7 linked regions of the Homo sapiens genome follow. The protein of the gene in region 6 purifies or fractionates together with the protein of the main gene of each other region. This does not show direct contact. Each region holds a gene or a part of one and is shown on either strand. Other genes may lie near its edges. The genes, in order: TNPO1, TRPV3, SLC25A12, DERL1, PRP4K, AKAP5 and OTUD6B.

Evidence for each region.
Region 1: the proteins of AKAP5 (region 6) and TNPO1 purify together in Homo sapiens (affinity purification with mass spectrometry; one large-scale study listed by BioGRID and IntAct). This does not show direct contact.
Region 2: the proteins of AKAP5 (region 6) and TRPV3 purify together in Homo sapiens (affinity purification with western blotting, with the first as the bait; one study listed by BioGRID). This does not show direct contact.
Region 3: the proteins of AKAP5 (region 6) and SLC25A12 purify together in Homo sapiens (affinity purification with mass spectrometry; one large-scale study listed by BioGRID and IntAct). This does not show direct contact.
Region 4: the proteins of AKAP5 (region 6) and DERL1 purify together in Homo sapiens (affinity purification with mass spectrometry, with the first as the bait; one large-scale study listed by BioGRID). This does not show direct contact.
Region 5: the proteins of AKAP5 (region 6) and PRP4K purify together in Homo sapiens (affinity purification with mass spectrometry; one large-scale study listed by BioGRID and IntAct). This does not show direct contact.
Region 7: the proteins of AKAP5 (region 6) and OTUD6B purify together in Homo sapiens (affinity purification with mass spectrometry; one large-scale study listed by BioGRID and IntAct). This does not show direct contact.

The regions. Positions count from the first base shown.
Region 1 is NC_000005.10:72,910,661-72,914,888, forward strand, and holds the end of TNPO1 (transportin-1), read left to right. Parts: 3' UTR 1-3,728; downstream 3,729-4,228. UniProt on the Homo sapiens protein: Functions in nuclear protein import as nuclear transport receptor. Serves as receptor for nuclear localization signals (NLS) in cargo substrates.
Region 2 is NC_000017.11:3,530,313-3,533,812, reverse strand, and holds part of TRPV3 (transient receptor potential cation channel subfamily V member 3), read left to right. Parts: intron 1-875; coding exon 876-1,156; intron 1,157-3,500. UniProt on the Homo sapiens protein: Non-selective calcium permeant cation channel. It is activated by innocuous (warm) temperatures and shows an increased response at noxious temperatures greater than 39 degrees Celsius. Activation exhibits an outward rectification.
Region 3 is NC_000002.12:171,786,245-171,789,744, reverse strand, and holds part of SLC25A12 (electrogenic aspartate/glutamate antiporter SLC25A12, mitochondrial), read left to right. Parts: intron 1-1,797; coding exon 1,798-1,956; intron 1,957-2,083; coding exon 2,084-2,174; intron 2,175-3,500. UniProt on the Homo sapiens protein: Mitochondrial electrogenic aspartate/glutamate antiporter that favors efflux of aspartate and entry of glutamate and proton within the mitochondria as part of the malate-aspartate shuttle.
Region 4 is NC_000008.11:123,015,487-123,018,302, reverse strand, and holds part of DERL1 (derlin-1), read left to right. Parts: intron 1-2,717; coding exon 2,718-2,816. UniProt on the Homo sapiens protein: Functional component of endoplasmic reticulum-associated degradation (ERAD) for misfolded lumenal proteins. Forms homotetramers which encircle a large channel traversing the endoplasmic reticulum (ER) membrane.
Region 5 is NC_000006.12:4,062,392-4,065,483, forward strand, and holds the end of PRP4K (serine/threonine-protein kinase PRP4 homolog), read left to right. Parts: 3' UTR 1-2,592; downstream 2,593-3,092. UniProt on the Homo sapiens protein: Serine/threonine kinase involved in spliceosomal assembly as well as mitosis and signaling regulation. Connects chromatin mediated regulation of transcription and pre-mRNA splicing.
Region 6 is NC_000014.9:64,471,751-64,475,003, forward strand, and holds the end of AKAP5 (A-kinase anchor protein 5), read left to right. Parts: 3' UTR 1-2,753; downstream 2,754-3,253. UniProt on the Homo sapiens protein: Multivalent scaffold protein that anchors the cAMP-dependent protein kinase/PKA to cytoskeletal and/or organelle-associated proteins, targeting the signal carried by cAMP to specific intracellular effectors.
Region 7 is NC_000008.11:91,073,344-91,076,843, forward strand, and holds part of OTUD6B (deubiquitinase OTUD6B), read left to right. Parts: intron 1-487; coding exon 488-568; intron 569-3,248; coding exon of another isoform or gene 3,249-3,388; exon of another isoform or gene 3,389-3,389; intron 3,390-3,500.

The sequences.
Region 1 (4,228 bases), on a different chromosome or scaffold from region 6:
ATGGTTCTATTCTCTAAAAGTGTTGAATGATACAGCCATTGCACTGAAGTTTGAGCTGTGTGCGTGTGAATTTATACTGTTTCAAAAATTTCAAATGCATGGTAGCATGTAGAAAGGTTTTTGTTACTATGTGTGTGTGTGTGTTTTGTTTTGTTTTGTTCTGTTTTTTAACGTTCTTTCACCTTTCCTCTACTTTGGCTTTGCAAATTTCAGTCTGTAGAGCCTGAAATTAAATTATTTTATAGTGCCTGATATTTTTAATATTATAAGTTGGATTCAAAGGGTATACAGCATTTTGTTTTCTAGTACCATTGCTTCACTGGGAGCTCAAAATTTGCCTCCCTGTTAGTCTTTAATAACTGAGTAGAGTAGCTTTTTTATTCTTAGATTATAGTGATATTCTGTAGTGCTTCAAATACTTAGAATTCTAATATGAGAGATAGTTTAATATTCTGGAATAGAGAGTATTTTAAATTGAAATGACCAAATTCGATTTAAAACAAACACATAACAATCTTCAGTAAAGTTATTTGAACCTGTGGTTGACAATTCTGTATTGACTAAAGGCAATATTGTCACCTGTCTCATTAAAAATTAGTTTCCAGTTAGGCAGATGAATAACACTATTAAAAATGCACCCAGTTTTGTAGTCACTTGACTTTTTTTTTTTATTTAAATGAAATTTAATTTGAAAATAGAAAATAAAATTAGGTAAATATGACTGGCAACCTGAATTTGAGTTGGGATTCTTTGTGTATTTTTCCCCCTTGAGGTTATTGTTTCTTCCTAATTTATATTTCAGATACATAGTGTAGAACAGGAATTTGCAGAAGCCATTTAAGTTATCTTTTGAGGTAAGCTCTGATTTAGCATTTATTCTGATAAAATCTAATACATCATGGGATATATATAAAGCAACTTAATTCTTGTGGTGTAGTCTTAATAGTTTTGAATGTTGACTGAATGTCTATAAAATTGTGAGTTTGTCTTTGTTACATTCCAGTGTTTCTGCCTCTTGGCATGCTTAAAGCACGGCTTACTTCATCTGCTCCTTACACACTAAAATGCTGTTAGTGTGCTCAACTACAGAAATAGCCGCTGCTAAGTGATGTAGATTTTCTACTTGAATATTTTTATGTTGTAGGAACCTCAGGAGGTCAGTGTTTACTGTTTTATATATGCCTTCTTTTTCCTGTTTGAGCTTCTCTCTTTGAAGGATTCTAACAGAACAAAGCTGCTGATCAACCTAAGTTGGAAACAGAAAGTGTAATTAATATAACTTAAATGCATGTTTGGCAGTTCCATGTTACAGTCCATTAGCGAGTGAACTTAGTGCCACAGGTATTCATTTATTCAGGAAAGAATTTTGCTTTTTGTATTGTCTAATCTCTTCAATGACTTCATACTGTGTAAAAAAAAATCACTTTTTAATATTTTTTGGTTGGTTATTTCCCAAATAATCAACATGTAAATAATCTTTTAAGAGCCAGTTCTGATGCTTTACATTATTGCTACTTGATTTTGTTATGCAAGTTAGATTTCAGAAGAATAGATTTTAAAACACTTAACCAAGCCATTACATCTTAAAAACAAAACAAGTAGCATACATTTTGTAATTAACATTGATAAACACTGTGATTTTTTTGGTTAAGACTTTTTCATTGATCTGAATTGCTTAAATTGCATATATTGTAAAATAGGATCAGATGTATATTTTAAACTAATTTCAATGGATTTTCCTCTTGAAATGCTTTGTCTACTCAGTTATAAAATATTCAGATACAAGTTTTATCTCAGGTGAATACTCTTGTATTGTTTTTGCTTTGGTGACATGCTTATAAAGGGTCATCCTAGTTACATTCTTTGTTTTTTAAGTGTATTTCATTGAGAATCTTTCCATTTAGTCTGATTTTTTTCCTAATATTCTAGCAGGCTGGGGTGGTATAAAGCCCTCCTGACAAGCCTTTTGCCTACAGGTTTACCTGAAAATGAGCTACATATGGTCGTCATTTTCTTCAAACTCTCAAAATAGGAAAGTGGAAATTTTTCTCCCCTATATAAAATTATTCTGCCTAGCAGAAATGCCAGAAATAAATTAATTGCATCTTAGTCTAAATTTAAGTCCTTTGCCATGAGGAAAAAGTGGTTTTTTGCTTCATATGGTAAATCTATATTATTCATATTGAATGTATTAACAGATAATGGTGCAAAAGCATTCTTCCCAGGGGAAGAGTGTATCATGCATAACTGCAATTTAAGTCCTTCCTTTGATAATACTTCAAAACATACACAGCTTTGCTTACTGAATTATTTTTGCAAATAATACAAGGAGGGGAAACTAACTTGCTACTAGTGTTGTTAATGAAGTATAGGCCTTGGAACATTTAAGAAAACTGGTCTTCAGATAGTTAAGGGCTTGGGATAATTTAAGTGAAAAGTGAGATCAGTAATGAGCTGTGTTGTTAACAATATTATCTGGTAATAATACCATGCAATATAGCGTTGTATACCAACTTAGTGCATTTTATACTGTATTAAATATGGAGATACTTCTAATGCCTCTCTAAAATTAAATTTTACATAAAAGTTAGTTTTATTCACCTTTAGGCTTTCCAAGTGAATTGTGACTAATTTTTTCAATCTTACATAGATCTTTCACCCATTAGCATTACTTACGTAGATAATTCTTTATGCCTAGTTATTATACATATTAATTTTTAAGGTATACATTTAAATTACACAATTGTTCATTGTGGTTTGTATCCCAGAATGTGTTGTGTTTTTTAAAAGATGCATAATAGCTGAATGTATGCATGACTTTGAAAGAAGTTAAAATGGTGATTTTTTTTCACCTCTTGTACATTTTAAAACCAGGCCAAATCTATTTGCCAAGCAGTGTATCACTAATAAGAAAAGCAGTTTTTCCTTTTATTGCAGTTTTTGTTTATCTGCCATAGAATTTCCTTATACTGTGGCTTGGTATTATTCAAGATTAGCTATTTCGCTGGTATTACATCTTTTTAAAAGCCTATTATAACATGGTTAGCCTATAAGGCAGTGTTGGTCCCCTTCTAATATTGGCCTCATAAAGGGGTTCCACTGTACTTTCCGCATATTACTGTGTTGTTGTTTTCCTTTGTGGATATATAAGCAAATTGAGCTTGGGTGATTTTTATGGAGACAATAATTAGACAATACTGTATAATTAGTTTTACTTAATAGATTATCATCTTGTGAGAAGAGATGTTTAAACGTGGTAAATCACTTCATATTACAAAACAGTTTTACACTTAATATGTTAACATTGGGTGCAATAATTTAGTAGCATTAGCTTTAGTTACAAATATAACTGGATCTTTCTGCTGACAACTTAGGTTGTATGAGTTATGCTTAAAAGCTTTAAATCTGATGTTTCCTGTACCTGCCACACTATGTTAGAATGTGTCCTTCAAACATATCCTCCTGCAACTTCTCAAACTGTACTAAATTGATATTTCTTGAAGTCTAACTCTGTGCTAACAGATCTCCATTTTAAATAGAATACGGTTTTAATTTTTGATAAGCTGCTGAATTTTAAAGAGAGTTTTTTGGGGCCACCAAATATTTTGGATCATGCAGAGAATATATATTGTACTGTAGTAATTTTGTATTTACATTTGTATGATGTGACATAATAGATGTGAATGTTAATCACTGCTTGACTATGTTAATAAAGTTGTTTAACTATAGATGTTGCACTCTGATTTTTAATGAAAGGAAATGAGTTTTCTTTTTCCCTCTTACCCCATTTTGGATCTAGATAAGCCTTATGTTTTTTGGGATTTTTTTCCTTGTTTTTAGTTTGAGGTTTTGTTTTGTTTTTTCCTTAGCTTACACATTAGTACACTTTTGTTGTTGAACATCATTTATTTCTTAAAACAAGTGTTTTCTTATTTGTATAGTATAGTAAAAACCTGTTTTTCCACATTTTAACTTAACTCCTTGATGTGTTTTAAACAGTTGATTATAGGTTCTGCTGTTTGAGGATAGGGGACATACTATTCTGTAAAAGGAATTAAAGGCGAAATTGTGAATATAAAAAGTTGATGTAAGGAGAGATTGCATGAGTGTGTATGAATGTATGTCCTATTAAGGCTTCCTCTTTATCCTTCAAACAGTTAAGATTTGTAATTTGGGGAATTAACATTTATAAGAGTAATTTTTTCTTCAGGTTGTAAGGCATTAATAT
Region 2 (3,500 bases), on a different chromosome or scaffold from region 6:
TAAAAAATACAAAGTAGACCGAGTGCAGTGACTCACATCTGTAATCCCAGCACTTTGGGAGGCCAAGGCAGGTGGATCACGAGGTCAGGAGTTCAAGACCATCCTGGCCAACATGGGGAAACCCCATCACTACTAAAAATACAAAAATTAGCCGGGCGTGGTGGCGGGCGCCTGTAGTCCCAGCTACTCAGGAGGCTGAGGCAGGAGAATAGCTTGAACCCGGGAGGCAGAGGTTGCAGTGAGGCGAGATCGCACCACTGCACTCCAGCCTGGCGACAGAGTAGGACTCCATCTCAAAAAAAAAAAAAAAAGTAAAGCAGAGGACAAGGAACCAAGAGTTCTGTCTGGGACAAGAGGAGGGTGGATTTTAATTTTAAATAGAGTGGTTAGGGTGGCTCACTGAAAGGTGACATTTGAGCAAGGACTTGAAGGAGGTGAGGGAGAAAGTGACTGGGCTATCTACAGGCAGAGGGGACAGCCGAGCGAAGGCCCCCAGGCGGCGTGTTGGAGGAGGTGGAAAAAGGCCGTTGTAGCAGGAGGGAGTGAGTGATGGAGAGAGGAGGTCAGAGTATGCAGGGCTTTGTGGGCTGTCATTGGAACCTGTGCTTTCATTCTGGGGGAGGCACTAACAGGTTGGTCTGGCTGCTGTGCTGAGCAGAGTATTAAAGGGCCAGGGTGGAGGCAGGGAGGCCAGTTAGGAGGCTACCGCAGTGATCTAGCTTCACTCTTCCCCGTAGAAGCGGAAGATGGGGAGAGGGCTAGGGAACCTGAGGTGCCCATCCTGCTGAGATAGGATATGGGCCCCAGTCCTGGGGCTTGGGGGACGCTGCTTCCGGCCCATGAGAGAACCAAGCTTCAGTGCGCTCATCCCCCAGGTGAGACGCCCCTGGCCCTGGCAGCATGCACCAACCAGCCCGAGATTGTGCAGCTGCTGATGGAGCACGAGCAGACGGACATCACCTCGCGGGACTCACGAGGCAACAACATCCTTCACGCCCTGGTGACCGTGGCCGAGGACTTCAAGACGCAGAATGACTTTGTGAAGCGCATGTACGACATGATCCTACTGCGGAGTGGCAACTGGGAGCTGGAGACCACTCGCAACAACGATGGCCTCACGCCGCTGCAGCTGGCCGCCAAGATGGGCAAGGCGGAGGTGGGGCCATGGGGCGTGGGGAGGCAGGAGGTCGGGAGGTCAGGAGGTACAGCTGCCACCCTCTCAGCCCCGGGGGCCTTACTGGGGATTCACAAACCACAGCCTCAGCCTTGAGAAGGTCCCAGCCTTGGGTCCAGAACTGCAGTGGCGTGGCGGCCGGAGGCAGGTTTGTTCTGAGGGGCCACGCGGAGCTGGTGCGATGCAGCCCACTCTCTAGACTTCAGTCCCTAATACGCCGCGTTTCCATCTCTTGTCCTGGGAGGGCTAGGCTGGGGGAGCCTGAGGCTGAGGTGACACAATAGCCCCAGCAGTGGGTGGCCCTTGGGGCCTTCTGCCTCTCACGAGGACGGGAGTTCCAGAATGGCTGCTGCGGGCGCAGCGCTAATATGCTGCCATTTCCCAATTATGGGGAGACCCCAGCCTGTTTGTGCGGTTGGAACTCTGTGCCAGGTCCCCAGCCAAGAGTGTGGCCGCTTTGGGCCCTTCTTGCCTTGTGTGATGTGGCTGAGAAATCGAGGCTTGGCTGGGAGCCTTGGTGAAGACTTGAGCAGGGCTGGGCTCAGATCTCTTTCAGGGGCCGGTGTCATGGCTTGGTCTGAGATGTTCTTCTCAGGGGACTGATTCTGGGGTCCAAGCGTGTTCCTCAGCCTCACTGTCTCTACGCTCTGCGAGGAGGCTGTGGCTCCTGGGACGCCATCAGAGGACACTGGGGGGTGGTGACTGTTGAGTAATCGCAGCTGTGCCAGCCTCAGGGTACCCGCCTCCCTGGTCAGCTGCCCCGAGGGCCTTGGTCCTGTCCCAAGTGGTCAGGGCTGGGACCCACAAGGGGCCTTTTGATTCTCCCGTGGGGGAGGAGGAGATGGAGAACGGCTTCAACAGAGGAGGAATTGTGTGTCTGCCTCCCCGCAGCTCCTGCCTACCCTCAGGGTCACAGCTTGCTGGGGCTTTGAAGAGTCAGCTTGTGGTTGCAGAAGGAGCCTTCTCCAAGGCCGTCTTCCCTGTGTGCCACTGTGGCGGGTGCTGTCCCTGCCACCCCAGCCCAGGGAGGAGGCTTCCTGCATGGAGCATGGTCCCAGGACCCCCTTGTTTTCTAGGGGACAGTGTGCCCGCTGTGGCCGGCCCGGGGGAGGCACCTGTCTCCCGCTTCCCTCCTCTGTTCCGTGTCCTCCAGAAAACTTTTCTGGATGCTGCCCAGCTTGGCCACCGTCCTGGGGCTTTTATAGGCTGGGGTGCGGGGCGGAGAGACCTGGCCTTATCCCTAGAAGCTCTCTGCCTGGGCTCTCATGACAGATGGGATGGGAACCCAGTGGGTCTTGTGAGGCCAGGTCTCTGACACTGTCCTTCCCAACAGTCCCTTCCTCTTGGGTCTTGAGTTGGTGTCCTAGGAAGTCCATGTCTCATCCTGGGGTAACCCAGGGCTCAGCTTTTTGGAAGTAGGAAGCCAGAGACAGCAGCTCTGTGTCCAGCCTGCACTTTGGAGCCAACCAGGAAGCTTCACAAATACAGACTCCTGGGTCCCACCCTGGATATTTCGATTTCATCAGTTGATGCTGTGGGAATTTTTGGTTTTTTTGTTTGTTTGTTTTGTTTTGTTTTTTTTGAGACTAGAGTCTCACTTCATTGCCCAGGCTGGAGTGCAGTGGCGCAATCATGGCTCACGGCAACCTCCACCTCCCAGGTTCAAGCGACTCTCCTGCCTCAGCCTCCTGAGTAGCTGGGGTTACAGGCGCCTGCCACCACACCCAGCTAATTTTTGTATTTTTAGTAGAGACAGGATTCCACCATGTTGGCCAGGCTGGTCTCGAACTCCTGACCTCAAATGATCCACCCGCCTCGGCCTCCCAAAGTGCTGGGATTACAGGCGTGAGCTACTGCACCTGGCCATGCTGTGGGAATTTCTAAGTTTCCCAGCAGCCCTAACATGCAGCAGAGTTTGAGGATCACTGGCCTACCGAAGTCCCACGGGCCTCCCTGTAGGGCGTGGTGTCTCTCGTCACCACCTGCCTGGCCAGAGTGGTGAGCCACAGCTGGAGGAGTCTTGGCTTAGGGTGGGCTGGGGACGCTGAGAACACTTCTGGCTTCTTCTCAAGTCCAGAGCAAATGGAAACTGTTTCTAAAAAATCATCAGTGCCTGGATTTTTCACCGAACCGGGTCCCCAGCTGGCGTGAGGCATTTCAAGCTGATTGTGCAGCTTGCTGCAGCCTGCGAAGAACCTTCACACCCTTTGTCCCTGGTATTCACAACCCCCAGTGAGATGGGCGGAACAGCAAGCTTTGTGCGCATTCCACAGATAAAGACGGGGCCCAGGGGCCATGGCGCCAGGCGCAGAGGCAGGTCTCCACC
Region 3 (3,500 bases), on a different chromosome or scaffold from region 6:
TTTTTGTATTTTTAGTAAAGACAGGGTTTCACCATGTTGGCCAGCACAGCTGGTCAGAGCCACACTGAGCTCTGTAATGGTTCATTACTGGTTGTATAGAGAGCAAACATGCACCCCTTCCTTCCTTTGTCTTTTCGGAGTGTTGGTGCAGCCAAGGACACCTGGTTCTCTCCTCCTTTTCCAAATCAGCTCCTTCCTAACTCAAGAGTCAGGCTGAGGCCGAGCTTGGTGGCTCATTCCTGTAATCCCAGCACTTTGGGAGGCCAAGGCGGGCAGATCACGAGGTCAGGAGATCGAGACCATCCTGGCTAACACGGTGAAACCCCGTCTCTACTAAAAATACAAAAAATTAGCCGGGCGTGGTGGCGGGCTTCTGTAGTCCCAGCTACTGGGGAGGCTGAGGCAGGAGAATGGCATGAACCTGGGAGGCGGAGCTTGCAGTGAGCCGAGATTGTGCCACTGCACTCCAGCCTGGGCGACAGAGTGAGACTGTCTCAAAAAAAAAAGAGAGTCAGGCTGTAAATGTGAGGTCTCAAACTCCTGACCTCAGGTGATCCTCCCATCTTGGCCTTCCAAAGTGCTGGGATTACAAGCGTGAACCACCACACTTGGCCCAGTCTCCTACTTTTAAATGGGGGCAGCATTTGCCTTCCAGGCTTTTCCTTGTGCTTTCCAATCAACAATGAAAAACAGCCAGAGAAGAAGAGTCTAATTGTGGACAGGTGTTTGCAAGTGGTTGAACCAAGTAAATATTTCCATGGAACTGTCAGCACCGACTTCTTCCCCATAGACATTTGATGTCAGTTTTCAGAATGAGATTATTTTTTCTAATTTTTACCAGTCAAGCTTTGCTAGCAGGAACTGAGAACATTCAGAAGTCTGCCTCCAAAGGCAGGAAGTTTACCTAGTTTCATCTGAATAGGGTGCAAGGCCATGCCAAGGGGAAGTATTTGCATTATTCCCTAGCAGAACCTCGTACAAGGCTGCCAACTCCATCCGCCTAGTGAGGATACAGTGATATTCAGGCCAAATTGAATTTCTTCCCCCGGGGAAGATTATTTTGCTCCTTTGCTCTCTGTTTTGTTTTATAAGTAAAAGGTGTGGTTGTGAAATCCATCTTTTGTGTCCTGCTGCTGATCAATCTCAACATGACCCCAGGGAGCTCGGGCACAGGGGCCTTTCCCTGACCAGCTCCCCTGTTGTTTCTTAACTGGCTGCCTGGCCACCTCTTGCTCCAGTTGTAATGACTTTTGTCATGTAAGCATGTCTGAAAGGAGTCACAGTCAACTCTCAAGGTAGCCCTTCAAACAAGCGAGTGATTATAAGTATTGATATTCACTTCCCACACTACGACAAGAATCAGCAAAAACAGTAGTTTGGTGTCAGATACATTTAGTGACTCACTAAGATGACATTATCATTTTTTTATACATAAAAATACTTGTATCTTATTTAAGAAAAAAAGGAGGTAAAATAATTGAAACTGAAAGGGAACGCTTGGGAATTGTCTTATTAATATTGCTACTTTTTTTTTCTCTCTCACAGTTATTTGGGATCATGCAATGTAGAGTGATTTTTTTTTTAATTCAGGAAAAAATAATAATAATTTTCCCCTGATCACACTGCAACAGCTAATAGGCTTCTATGCCCTTTTCCCATTAATGGCCAGACATCTATGTAAAGAGTTTTGAGTTCCGCTCAAGTGGTTGAAGTTGCAGGCTCTATAGTAGATGTTAGCAGTATTCCTATCTTTTATAAGGTACTCTAGATAAATTAAATGTGGTTTTCTCCTGAAAGGTGTCCCAGCTGCATCTCTGGTGACCCCTGCTGATGTCATCAAGACAAGACTGCAGGTGGCTGCCCGCGCTGGCCAGACGACATACAGTGGTGTCATCGACTGTTTCAGGAAGATTCTCCGGGAAGAAGGGCCCTCAGCATTTTGGAAAGGGACTGCAGGTAGGCAGGGGCTGGAGCCATACAGAATGGCTGGCTGGCTCTAGCGTCCTCCCCTGTGACTCAGTGGCTATCTTTACCACATTTGTCCTGGTTTCAAGTCTCCCCTGCCCCTGCTTCTCTTTTTCAGCTCGAGTGTTTCGATCCTCTCCCCAGTTTGGTGTTACCTTGGTCACTTATGAACTTCTCCAGCGGTGGTTTTACATTGATTTTGGAGGCCTGTAAGTCAGCTGCTCAACTCCTTTACAAAGAAATCACTAAGTCCAAAACAAATGTTTGTTCTGTCTACAAAAGCATTGTTGCAACTCTTAGAAAACTGATAAGACAGAACCTTTAAGACCAATGCATTTAAAACAGTGAGCTTAAGAAGCATTTGTGTTAAGCAAGTAAAACTTGACAGAGTGACATCGTACATAATATTAAGCAGCTATTTGGGGGATTTTAGGGAAGCAGCAAATTTTTTTAAAAAAGACAGGATATCCTCTGTTGCCCAGGCTGGAGTGCAGTGGCATGTTCTTGGCTCACCGTAGCCTCAACCTCCCGGGCTCAAGCGATCCTCCCACCTCAGCCTCCTGAGTAGCTGGGACCACAGAGGCATGCCACCACACCCAGCTAATTTTTGTACTTTTTTATAGAGATGGGATCTCACTGTGTTGCCCAGGCTGGTCTCGAACTCCACCAGCCTTGGCCTCCCAAAGTGCTGGGATTACAGACATGAGCTACCGTGCCTAGCCAGGAGGCAGCAGATTAAAATGCTGTGTAAATAATTGTCTTTTTTCACATAAGCAAATACTGAACTTCATGGCGTTCTCATTATGTGGATTTTATTATATGGCCCTTTCACAGAAGTAATGTAAATGTATACCAGTAACACTTTTGTGCATTTTCTTTCAAAGTCCCAAGCCCTTTTGCATCTCTGATATTTCATTATTCACCACAATTTATTATTAGTTAGGTGCAGATGTTCTTGAAGCTAATTTACTGGAAAAACCAATAGGTTTGAAGAGAGATTTTGCCCATGGATATAATCACTAGTGAGCTGTAGGCCAGAAATTGGGCTTCTAAAAGCTTACCACTTGAAGCTTGCACTGAGAAGAAGAATTACAAGTTGAATTTTCTGGGTGGGGAAGTTGTACCCAAAGCAAGCAATTATTAGCTTTTCAGCAGAAGACCAAGTACCATTCCTGAGTCCTCACATCAGAAACCTGTGAACTCCTCTGTGCCCAAAGGCCATATAGGGAATCAGCTGCTGAACCAAGTGGAGGGACCTATGCAAAAAAAGTGAGAACAGCAGTCTTACAGTTGCATTGTAGAAATGTGAGGCTTCAGGCTTTTCCATGCTTCTTTCATCTTCTGTAAAAGAACTAAAGCTATTTCTCTCTCTCTCTTTTTTTTTTTTTTTTTTTTTTAGACGGAGTCTTGCTCTGTCGCCCAGGCTGGAGTGCAGTGGTACGATCTCGGCTCACTGCAACCTCCACCTCCCAGGTTCAAGTGATTCTCCTGCCTCAGCCTCCTGAGAAGCTGGGACTAAGGGCGCCCACCACCGC
Region 4 (2,816 bases), on a different chromosome or scaffold from region 6:
AGGCTGTCGAAGAACGGGCCAGTTAAATCACCATCTGGGTGTCACAGCCTGCCTGACAATCATGCCTAATCTCATATCAGGGATATGCAGTAATAGCTTGCATTTGAAAGCTTTAAAAAAACAAACAAACCAAACCCTTCCACATCTTGCTAATTTTAATGTTTTGCAGTTCTGTCATTCCTCTAAGGGATCAGTGAGGGCAGTAAAACTTGAGCAGGCCTCCTCTTTCTCCCCTTCCTTTTATAGGGTAGGGGTATGTTTTTCAAAGACTTTTCAAATTGTGAACTGTAATATACAGAGATATACCATATTGGTGGTTGTGGTGTGTGTGTTTTTCTTTAAGAGAATAAAAAGAAACTTGTTTCTCTTCTGAGCCTTGAATTGCCTTCAGGCTAAAAAAACAAATGACCAATCTGGTTTCTAATTATCAAAGGACATAATAACAGCAGGTTTGGCTTTCTGATCTAGGTTTATCAAGTAGGATGGCAGATGCATCAATTAAAAAAAGCTTGGTGCTTTTGGGGGGCAGCCAACAGTTACTTTACTTTAAATGGCCATATTCTAACTTAACGGCTTGTAGCTACTTCTCAGTTGTGGGCAACACAGGATACAAGATTCTAGTGGCAAAATCAGCGAGCCCTGGAGCCTGCCTTCCACTTGAACTTTCTCTGTTGGGGGAAGTCCTTCTGCTAAATTTTGCATAAAGATCAGATGACAAAATACAGCTCCTTGCAAAAGCAGTAACTGCTTTGAAATTACCATAAATTTTTGTTGATTATGTATAATTGGGTATCTTTTTATACTAATTATTTGCATTTAATTTCACTATCTACTTAAGCAGTGGAGATGGCTTCCATATTGTCTTAGAGTGAGTAGCAAAGCAAGACAGCCCTAGCATTTTCTCCAGCAAGTGTTCTATTTTATTATGTACTTTGGAGGAATATTATTGTACCAGAAGGCATGGATGTTGAGAAACCAGCACTTGGAAAATACATTTTGATTTAATGGTAAAGCTGTATTTGTTTAAAATGGAGGAGGTGAGTATAGGAAGGTATAACTGCTTTTCTAAATGGAATGCTGATACATTTGTATCACCATTTTCCATTCCATTTAGAGTAGTTATATCTTCTCTGTACACACTAAATTTTGTGTTTAAAAGGGGTTTTTGGCCAGGCGTGGTTGCTCACGTCGGTAATCCCAGCATTTTGGGAGGCCGACGGGTGGATCACGAGGTCAGGAGATCGAGACCATCCTGGCTAACATGGTGAAACCCTGGCTCCACTAAAAATACAAAAATTAGCTGGACATGGTAGCGGGCGCCTGTTGTCCCAGCTACTCGGGAGGCTGAGGCAGGAGAATTGCTTGAACCCGGGAGGTGGAGGTTGCAGTGAGCTGAGATCATGCTACTGCACTCCAGCCTGGTGACAGAGTGAGACTCCGTCTCAAAAAAAAACAAAAAAACAAAAACCCGAGTTGTTGTCTGTTTTGGGAAGAGGCATGAAGGTATCGAGTATGATGTAAACAGACTCCAGTCACTGACTGCTGTCCCTTCCCAGGCAGGATGCATGTAGTATAACAAGTAGTGCAGGGCGCAGGCTCTGGAACCAGGCTGACTAGGTTGGAATCCTGTCACTTTCGAAGCGCTTCACTCAGTGTTGGCTCAATTTTCTTGTTTATAAAACAGGAGTAATAGTAATGCCTACCTCATGGGGTTATTGTGAAGATCAGATGAATTTATAAGCAGGCAGCACCTAGTGTAAGGCAATAATCACTGAGTAAATTCACATAGTAACTGCTCTAGTATAAGGTCAAGTATAAAGCCTGTCCTCTTCAGGGTTTCTGCTGTGGACAAGTCACCTGTCATGACTTACTCTTGCTGCCAAGAAGGGTTTAAGCGGAGGTATCAGATCATGCTCTCTGCCTTCAAGCAAAATTTTAAACATTAGGATCTGCTAAGTGGAATAGGTTTAAACACATTCTCAGTTTACTAATAAAAGAGTCAAAGATGGGAAATAGTTGGAAAATACTATTGAGAGTGTAGGCTTGGGTTTAAGTTCTCTTAGCTGTTCTGTGAACTCTTAGTTTATTAATTTTAAGGTGGGAAATCATCTAACCGTCTGGGGCCCCAGCTCTCCCACCATCTGTGAGAAGGGAAGAATGTACCTGGAAGGCAGATTCTGAATAAATTTTAAAACATACCCATACTTCCAACATAGAAAGCCTTCTTCCCCTGTCTCCTTTGATGGGCTCAGCTGAGAGCCTTTTAGAAATGCTGTGCAAGGCTCAAACATGCAGGCTGTGGATTTGGCCTTTGAAAGTGAATGTATTTTGTATCCTTTGATCCAGTTTGAGCCATATTTAGATATACCAAGATGCTATCAGTCATTCTTTGGTTGCTGGGCTTGTGGGTGTAATATTTTTGTTTCCATACTGTTCTGCATGGATTACTTTTATAAGCAGAGAAAAAAACGTTCAGAGTGTGAATTTAGCTGAAATCTGAATACATTTAAGAAACATGAAAAACGAATGCCGTCTGTGGTCAGGTCATGGGGCTGAGTACAGAAAAGACAAAGTTAAATAAGACGTCCCTCGCTGCCTTCAACATGACAAGTGCCATGGGAACAGCAGGAGAGGGAGGTGTTCTCGGAGGTCAGATAACTATGTGGAAGTGACTTTGTTCTCTTCTCTCCGTTTGTGTCCCCGTCTTTCTGCACCAGGTACCGCTGGCTGCCCAGTAGGAGAGGAGGAGTATCAGGATTTGGTGTGCCCCCTGCTAGCATGAGGCGAGCTGCTGATCAGAATGGCGGAGGCGGGAG
Region 5 (3,092 bases), on a different chromosome or scaffold from region 6:
GTATTATTAACATGGTAGAAGAGAATTTTTCAGAAATATATGTAATCTTTGCTGTTTGGGGGGTAAAATTAATGCTTGTCTCCCTGAGGAATATGGAAAATAATCAGATTTTAGGGGTTTAAATAATATTTTTAAATTGTAAATGGGATTTTTTTATTCACCCAGGCACCTAATTACAACAAGCATGCACATTTTGGTGCATTCAAGAATGGAAAATCAGAATAGCAGCATTGATTCTTCTGGTGGGTTTTGCTCCATTTAAAGACATGAAATGAACTACAGCCAGGAAGGTGATAGATGATATAATAAGCCACCTCTGAACCTACACCCCGTCTCTTCACGGTTTAGACTTACTAAAATAAATACAAGGTGATTTTCATCTTCAGGTAGAGTGAAGCCTTTTAATTAAGGCGTCACAGGTGCAGCTATTCTACCTTAATGAAATGGGTAGTGATTTTCCCACCATTATTTATTTCGGTGATAATATGCTGCATATTCAAGTCTCTTGTAGTTATTTTCACCCAAAGTAGTTGACAATTTGATGCTTCTGGTGATGTTTATGGCTTCATTTTATGTAATTTTTTAAGTAAGTTCCACTAGAAACAGTTCATCTTATACCTTCAAAACTGTTACCTGTTCTTTAAAAAACAAAGTTGCTTGTTACTTGTTCTTTGTGTTTTAGGTGCAGCTCAGTGGAAGATGATGACAACCAGAAGACATGAGCTAAGGTTTCTGTCCTATAAAAGATTTATTAAAAAACAATCCTTCATTTATTTTTTGTCTAATTTTTTAGTTTTCAGCATTATGATTTGGGTTTTATTGGTGTTTGGTATTTAGAATTAGTGCTGTTGTGGAGTGCGTCTGTAAAGTGCTTGTTTTATCATACTTCCTGCCTCTCCCCTCCCCCAGTTTCTCCTCCCCTAAAATAAAAATAGTGGTCAACTTTAGTAATATAAAAGGCTGCTGGATGCTGAGATTCCACATAACACATGGTTGTCAAAATTGGATGTTAAGGATTCTTAGAAAAACAGCAACCACCAGAATAGCATATATCTGAAAGTAGTCTTCAGCTTTAGGCAGATGCAAAAGAATACAAACTGGAATATTAAGAATACTGTTCAACTCCTTTAGTATCTGTTCCCCAACTTACCCTGTAGAAACCTCGTTATTAACCAGTGTTCCAGTCTTAAAGTAGACAAAATATTCAGAGCCATTTTTTTTAAGGGAAATGAAAAAGATACTCTGGGTTTTTTATACTCCCCAATTTAGCATATCTAGACTACCTATTTGAAAGGAACCCTATCAACTGTCTTATGTACGTTACATGATTTTCCTACACTCTGTAATTTTGCTGAGGTGCAATTTGGAACTCTGCAAGACCTACTAGATTGAATTTATTTAGTGAATGCTCCTGAATAAATGTGCATTCCTCTTTTAGAGTAGCTGTATGCTTTTCAAATGCTATCTGCCGTGAATTTTTTGCTTTTATTATACTTTATGGCAAAAGTGATATCAAGTGATTGTCAGACTTGAGGGCTCATAGAAGTGTTAGGTACGGCTCTCAAAGATGTTACAGTTTTTTCTAGGGTTGGGAGAATAGTTGAGATCTGGAAAGCATAGACATTTTTTACACTCTGGATAGACTTTATTCTTGAAGATCATCAGAAATGAGGTTGGAATTTCGAGGTTTTGAGCAGGGGGAGCATCTTATATTCACCCTTAAATCGTTATTAATACATCCTGTTTTCTTCATTCCCTGATAGCTATCTCATTTCACTCTACTGTCTCAAAATTTTGTTTTAAAATAATAGAAATGTTTTGCCATTATTAAGTACCACTTTATTCCTAACAAAAATAAGTACTCAGGACTTTTTTTTCAAAATGAAATATTTATGTACTGTTTTATGGTATGTGGTAGAGTAAGTAAAATGTAATGTTCTCAGTTTTGTTCCATATTTGCATTCCTCTTATGCTTTACCTGTATTTTATCATTTGTAAGCAGAACTCTAGCTATATGGGGTAGAAATAAAATCTCTGAGATGAAACAAAGGAATCAACATGATAAAATTTAGGCGAAGTAGTTAAGAAATGGCCCTTTTGAATGTTGAAGATAGGAAAGAAAGCCATATATTCAAATATGTAATTTTCCTCATTTAGTTATAATGACATCTTTACCAATTGGGCTTCATAAATGTGTTTCTTTCTTAATAGTATCCTAGTTCCAGCATATATTCAACATGAATTTTATCATTCTCCTCCTAATGGAATGTCTTCCTTATAGAAATGTTCACGACAAATTCATTTGTGTTTTTTACATGTCAATAATGTATGCTAAATTAAAATGTTTTCCAGTTATTCTGATAGATGTCATTATGGCATCCTTAATTTTTCTTCTCCTTCTGTATATAGGGTAAGGGACTGTTCTGAAGAACCTTTCCATTTAGTGATCAAGATATGGAAGCTGATTTCTGAAAATGCTCAGTGTGTACTCTAATTATTTATGGTACCATTTGAATTGTAACTTGCATTTTAGCAGTGCATGTTTCTAATTGACTTACTGGGAAACTGAATAAAATATGCCTCTTATTATCATATTGTCTCCTGGTTTTTTTCTTTGGTTGAGTTCAGATTTTCCTCACAAACATCAAAACATTTTCAAAGCATTAGGTGCACAACACCAAAGAGTGTATTATATTCGTGTTCCTGTTACATACATTTCTGCTTTGGTTTTCCTAGTAAAGGAAACAGATAAGTAATGAGCCAACTCCTGTTTTTATAATGATAAAAATAAATTGGTTCATTGCTCACATGATAGCTTGACAAATCTTGGGCTCTTATCCTCAGTATACCCACTCTTTATTTTCTTCTTTTAAGGAACTGTTTTTGGCTTTTCAAAACAGTGAGTAAAATAGATTCACAGTGTAGTTTGTGAATCTTAGTGCATGCAAAGCAGATAAGGCAGGCAGAATGGCCTTGTAGAATGCACCCACCCACCCCATTGGAGCTAACCACCGCAGAGTGGCAGGTAGAAGCTAGTATGCTTGATTCTGGGCTGAGAAATGGTCAAATGGCACTGGCTCTGGATAGTCTTC
Region 6 (3,253 bases):
CAAGAGCTCCACTTGGAGGAAATAATGCACATTAGATGATTTTAAATGATCTGGGTGAATTCTTGCATTGTGTATGGATTGCATATAGAAAGTATTTGCTACTTTGTCCTACAGAATCATCTTCATTTCTTTCTGTAAATACATATTGAGACCTCTAACAAAAGAAACTAATCTGACTTGGAAATTGAACCAAATCATGGATATTATTAGCAAGATTCTTTGCTGAAGTGCAAAAATATTTCCCCCAGATTTTCCTACCTTCATGCTTATAATCCGGGGAGGAGGGTGGAAATCCTGAGCAAGATGAAAAGTGTCATTCAAAACACATGACCCAAGAAGTCAATTTCTTTTAATTGTACAACTTTTAAACATTAAAAACAAAAAAGACGAGTCATCTTCTCTGAAAACACTCTTTAACTCACTATATGTGGTGCTAATGGACTTGGACAGCTACCAGCTATCATATTTAAAAGTGAACCATTTTAAAAACCTGACTAAGGTTGGTGCATTTTACAGTGTATTGAAGAATCCTGCCCTCATTTACTGCAAGGATGCCTCCAAGCCAATACACTTGCATTGTAAATGTTTAGTAATCTCATGAACAAGCAAAAAGTATAGTACTTAGCAGTTATTGGAAATATTTTGGGGGATTTTTAAAAAAACAGATAAATGGTAAATATGTGCAATGAATTTTTTGGTTAAGAAAGTAAAATTTTATCTAATACTAGGTTTTTACTTTTTTCACTGTGGTTTGATATATATTTTTGGTTAGAATGTACTGATTGTTTTTATGATAAGATGTATATTTTACTTGCATTCATTCTTAAGAGGTTTCTGTTTTTCTATTGAGAATATCTGTTGAATTAAGTAGGATTTCAGTTAGAAAAAGGAATTCCGAAATTAACTGGTCTCAATCTGATTATATGTGCTACATGGCCAAATCCTATTACAGTGAATTCTAAGGTGATTCAAATTGTTTTATTGTTATAGAAATATGCAGAAATCAGATGGCTTCAGAGTCATAAAATATTTTTCTTGTAATAGTATTTAAGCAATTTGACCTTATATGCAAACGTTAAGTGAATATAAATAAGTTCTGTTTCAATTCATGTCCATTTAACAACATTAAAATAATTATTAGGAACACCACATGAATTTTCTTTACATTTGCTGTGGTATAAATTCTGCTTTTAATGAATGTTTATTTATTTATTAGCCAAAATTCAGTTTCTCTTTGAACCCAGAATTTTGCAAAGCTGGGGGTTGGGGAGGGGGATTATTAGCTACTTGTTAACTTTTTCAGCATATTATCATTCCTCTTTTAAGACTCAAGTATTATTCACTTTGCTTCTTACAACCCAGAGAATGTGAAAATTCTCCTCTATTTTATGTAGCACTATTCACTTAACATTTTTTCAAAGCACTTTATAGGATATAAAAATAGTACCCGGTAACATTTAAGTAAAGGTAGCAGAAAACAAAAGAACTTTCAAACAGAAATTATGTTCCCTGCCACCTCCTCCACCTCAAAGAATAATAAGCATGTGGCATAAATGGAGTTGTTCAGAAAAGCTGTCTGCATAATTTTCCTTCAAGGTAATGTATTTGACAGCATGAAGTTTGTGATGATCTTACTTGGTCTACTACTCAGCGGAGTCTTAGAATCTCTTTTATTTACTTCTGAGAGATTGTTATTTCACCAGTATATGTGAACAGGCTTGCTAAAGGCATTAAAGATATGGATCATGGAGGCACCAAATTTGGCTTCTGTATGCAATCCAGCATTAACTTCATCCATACATTTCTAACTTCATCCATAAATTTCTAACTTCAAGTTACCTTATTTTTTATAGTTAAGAATGTTTTTCGAGGTTTACAACAGAATTTAAAAAATAATTGTTAGGCTTTAGAATCCCACTGTTTGAAAAGATCCTTTTAATGTCAACTTTATTGAAATATGTAGTCTACTTTCTAATTTCATCTGATAATATAGCAGGATTTGATTTTTCTGCCTGCCATTTGTGCATTTAAAAAAAAATCCTCATTTAAGATTTAGAGTTCTTTAGGTTCAAATTCCTATGATGTTTTATTGGGTAACATGAACTCTCTTATACATAATTCAAAATTTCAATCCATGGTATATTTTATGGTACATTTTGAAAAGAAAATTTGTAATGCTCCTTAGTTACAAAAATTAGAAGGAAGCTACATAAAATTCAGGTGTCCTAATTAAATTCAATTTGATTCAACACACGTATTAGGCATAACTCATACCTAACACTATTTGATAAGGGAGACAGGCTCCCTGCCATCCAAGAACTCAACCTAGGGAGCAGTGACAACAGAAACCGGGTTGGGTTAAGGCAAAGAGCCATGGATAATGCTGCAACATGAGTGGCACAGAGGGGAGTACACAGAGAGAGCAATTAATTTGGTGTGGGGAAGGTGGTGATCTGAATACAGCAGCAGTTTGAAAGTGTTCCGTTTTTAAATAAACAGTATGCTTATTTTGATTTGTGACTAGGTGTAGAAAAAAGCCTGCATAGTGTTACATATTTATAGTAGTTCTTTGTAAAAATGTTAAGTGGATGAGCTATTATGAAAGTAAAAGTTTCATTTTTTCTCATTAAAATTAGTACTAAATTACTATGGATCAGATGATAATATTAAATAGTACTCTGTAGAAAAAAGGTTTCAAGTTGAATTAATTTATGTACTGATTATTAATACAGAATAAATGTTATATTGACTCATGTTTATTCAGATCTTTTAAAAGAACTGTGGGCAAACTATGTTCATTTCCTATAACTGTAAAGATCACATTGATGGAACTACTGAGTTCGCACTACCAAAAGTTCTACTCTGCTAATTGGGAATTGGACAGAGATTTTACAACAACACTCCTAAAACAGTCCTTCAGCAAGACAAATATAAACACCTACAATGCTGAACTAATTCAGCCAAAAGGGCAGTTCTGAATTTGATGACATTTGTGAATTTGACAAAAGCACACTGTTTTCATCTCTTGATATACTCATTATTTTCTGCATTAACCTATGAATTGTTCATCTTTATGATTTTTCAAAAGACTAATCAATGTGAAAATGCTAGAATTATTCAGACGGTACATACTAAAGGTGGGTGTTTAAAAAGTTCTGTGTTTACTAAGACACTGATTTCATTTTGGTAATGTTAACACTCTATCTTTTCGTAACCACAGCCCGATGATAACAATCAGGCTCTAGGAAGGACT
Region 7 (3,500 bases), on a different chromosome or scaffold from region 6:
TTTGTAGATGGAAAAGGGTAGGGTAGGAAAAGCTCAACTTGCTACTAGGGTCAAGGATTAGTACTCATCAGGTTCTGGCTAATTAAGATGGAAAAAGGCCTCTGCTGCCAGTAGAGGTTATGCAGGTAATAATGAACTGAGCCAGCACAGGACCTTTATCTTATATGTACTGGCAGTAGTCAGAGAAAAGAAGAGTGGAGTGCTAAATGAGTTGGCGCTTACAGGAAGTACAGTACTGCATTTAGATTAATGGAGTAGGCATTCTAAGAAGGAAGGAAAGCATGCAGGGATGAGCATGATCTTTGAAAGAAACTTCTTGGGAACTTGTCAAATTCTTCCATAAAAATAGAAACAGGAGACAAAACCATATTATCTAATACAGTGTCTATTGCTGTTACTCAAATTTGAAATGTGGGATTAGATATATTTATGATTTTCAGTAATTTAATAAGTACATTGACTTGTTAATGCTTTTTGTTTCCTTCAGATAGATTCTGTTGCTGTTAACATTTCAAACTTGGTGCTTGAGAATCAGCCACCTCGGATATCAAAAGCACAAAAGAGACGGGTATGAAAGTCATGTCACCAAGTATATAAGTTAGTGCTGTGTGTTCAATACTATCTTAGGTACTATCTTAGGTCTTGTTATAGGAAGAGAATGAAAAAAAAATGATGCAGTTCCTTGTCTAGGCACTTGAACTAACATTTATTAAGCACCTGCTGTGTGTCACATACTATGCTAAGCTGCTTATATGACATCTCATTTAGTCCTGACAATAATCCTGTGAAGTAGGATTTCTTATCCCCATTTTATGGAGAAGAAAATGATCCTAAGATAATATAAAATAACGTATTCAGGTTGCAGCTCTCATAGGAGAGCGAAGCTGGGAGTGGGAGTGCAAAGTAGTTTTTTTTACAAATATATTATCCCAGACTTAAAAATTCAGAATGTGGGCCCAGGGGATTCTGATGCACAACCCTAGCCAAGAACTATACCATTGGGTGAGAAATAAGGATTTGAACCTAGAAGTTAACATGTGTAGGTATACAAAATTCTTAGAGAATTATGTAGGTATCTATATAATGGTTAATTATGAAAATTTAGAGAAGGGAAAGTTCATTATGCTAATAATGGGTTGGAATTTGAAAGAAATATTATTTAGATAGGATATTCCAAATAGGAGGAGCAGCATGCACAAAAACAAATGTGGGGGTGATATATTGCATTATTGAAGAGCTATAAGGAAACTGATTTATTGGAAGTAGCTAGTTCATATCAGCATTATGGAAATGAGATTAGATAGGTAAGTCCCTTTGAATTTGAAAAAGAAAAATGATTAAATTCAGTCTTTTTAGTTGCGAGTATTATTTTATTAACACTTGATGTTTTCTATGGTTTAAATGCATATTTTTAAATTCATTTTGCATCTTATGACATAGTATGTAATTTAGTAGAGCATGGAGTTTAGTGTCAAACAGATGAGGTTTTAATTTCATTTACTGTTATACTTTGGGTACGGTTCTTCTTTAAGCCTCAGTTTCACATCTATAAAACGGGGGCAAATTATAGCTACTTCATAAGCTAATTCATTGTGAATATTAAATACTGTACTATTTCCAAAGCCTTTAACACAAGGCCTGGAGAACTAATGGGTCAACAAATGATAGTATTGTTTCTATATTAAGTAGTGTATAGTATGCCTCTTAAAAATGTAACCTAAAAGCAATGTCTTTTTCTGTGTTAAGTAGTGCATACTATGCCTCTTAAAAAATTAAACCTAAAAGCAATGTCTTTTTTTGTTTGCAAGCTGATGAAATGCACATAGTCCAACATTTCTCATTCTTGTGTAGAATTTTATTTTTGAGTAAATATAATTGTGAATTTTGTAGATTCATAAAATTTAGATCTCATGGAATCTTGGAGATTGTCTGCTTAGGATATGCATTCTTTTGTGATGATCTCACAATTGTCTAGCTTCTATAGATCAAAAAGGAAGGGCAGAATTTTTGCATGCCAGTAGCATAACAAAACATTGGAATTACGTCTACTTAGTAATTGAAACATCTTATAATAGCCTATTTAATTCTGGAAAACCTAAGGGCACAAGTTCTTCCTATCTTTATCAAAACTTGTTCCTCCCCAGCTGGACCTCTAACAACAAAACAAACAAAACGAAAACTCCCTTACCTTTCTCAAAAATTTTGTTACTTTTTCCCTAAGATACTGCACAACTGGAATTAATACTTTTGTCAGTTATACTCTCAAACCATTTAGTATCTTTTATAGTCAGCTGCTTTAACACTTGGTAGAAAAAATGCCCAAGTAATGTTTTTACAGGGTTATATTAATGGGATTTTAGAACAGAAAACATTAAACGTTTATAATGCTTAAGAAAATGGAACCTGAAGTCAGGATGCACAATCGGGTGTTAGATTATTTGGAACCTCCTTTTTGCTAGAAGCACCAAGGAATGCAAAGTCATTTAATTAATGATGTTTATCTTTGGGAAGGATACAACTCTGGAAGAAAAACGTGATAAAACTTTGTCAAGATTTATTTTAAGAATATCGTGGAATATTGTAGAGCATATCTCTTATTTTTAGTCTAGAAAAACAGTATTTTATTCAAAGAACTTACAAACTTTTTGATATGAGAGAAAGAGTCTAAAATAGAACTTAGAAGAGCTGGGTTTCAAAAATATGGAATTTGAGGGCTGGAATGAGATTGAATTCAATTTCTGTATTTTCCAATGAGAAAGCAGAGACCCAAGTTATCTCAATTGTACACTAAAAGTTTGATACAAACCCAGGACTGGTGTCCAGCTCTTAATATTCCCTTTGAATCTTCTTTGTTATATTACTATATCAACATGACTGTAGTTTTATTGACAATATATTTATGATTTACATGCTATTTTCATCTTTTATACGTTTTTATTAGAACTTATTAGTGCCATTCTATCTCCACTACTATAGCTGTAGAAACCAAAGTGCCTAGTGCTCTTGGGAAACTATATATTGCTGGAAAAAGAATTCAGTGGATTTCTTACCTAGTGCCCTGAAAAGGAAACTCAATTGCTTTGTTCTAATGAAGCAAAGCATGAAGGGAAAAAAATGAAATGATTAGAATTAGTATTTTAGAGGCTTAAACAGTTTTGCAGATAAGATAAAGTGCCACTCTTTCAGTAAATAGTACATGACATCATTAACTCCAGCTCCCATCTGCTCCAACTTTTATTCTGATTCAGGTGCCTGGATAGAAGGAGCTCTCTGTGTTGTCCTTGGTCCCTGCTCTGCTCTTACCAGCTGTATGGCCTTTGGAAATCTTTCTGCGTGCTGTTTCCTCAGAAGAGGAAAATGAGGGGTTTTGGATTAGATGATATCTAAGGTGCTTATTCTTCCTTTCCCCTCTGAAACTTTTTTAGTCTTTTATAAAGTAATAGTGCCATCTTGTGTTTTAAGATATTATGCCTCTGTGATCCACAGTTCTAGGTACACAG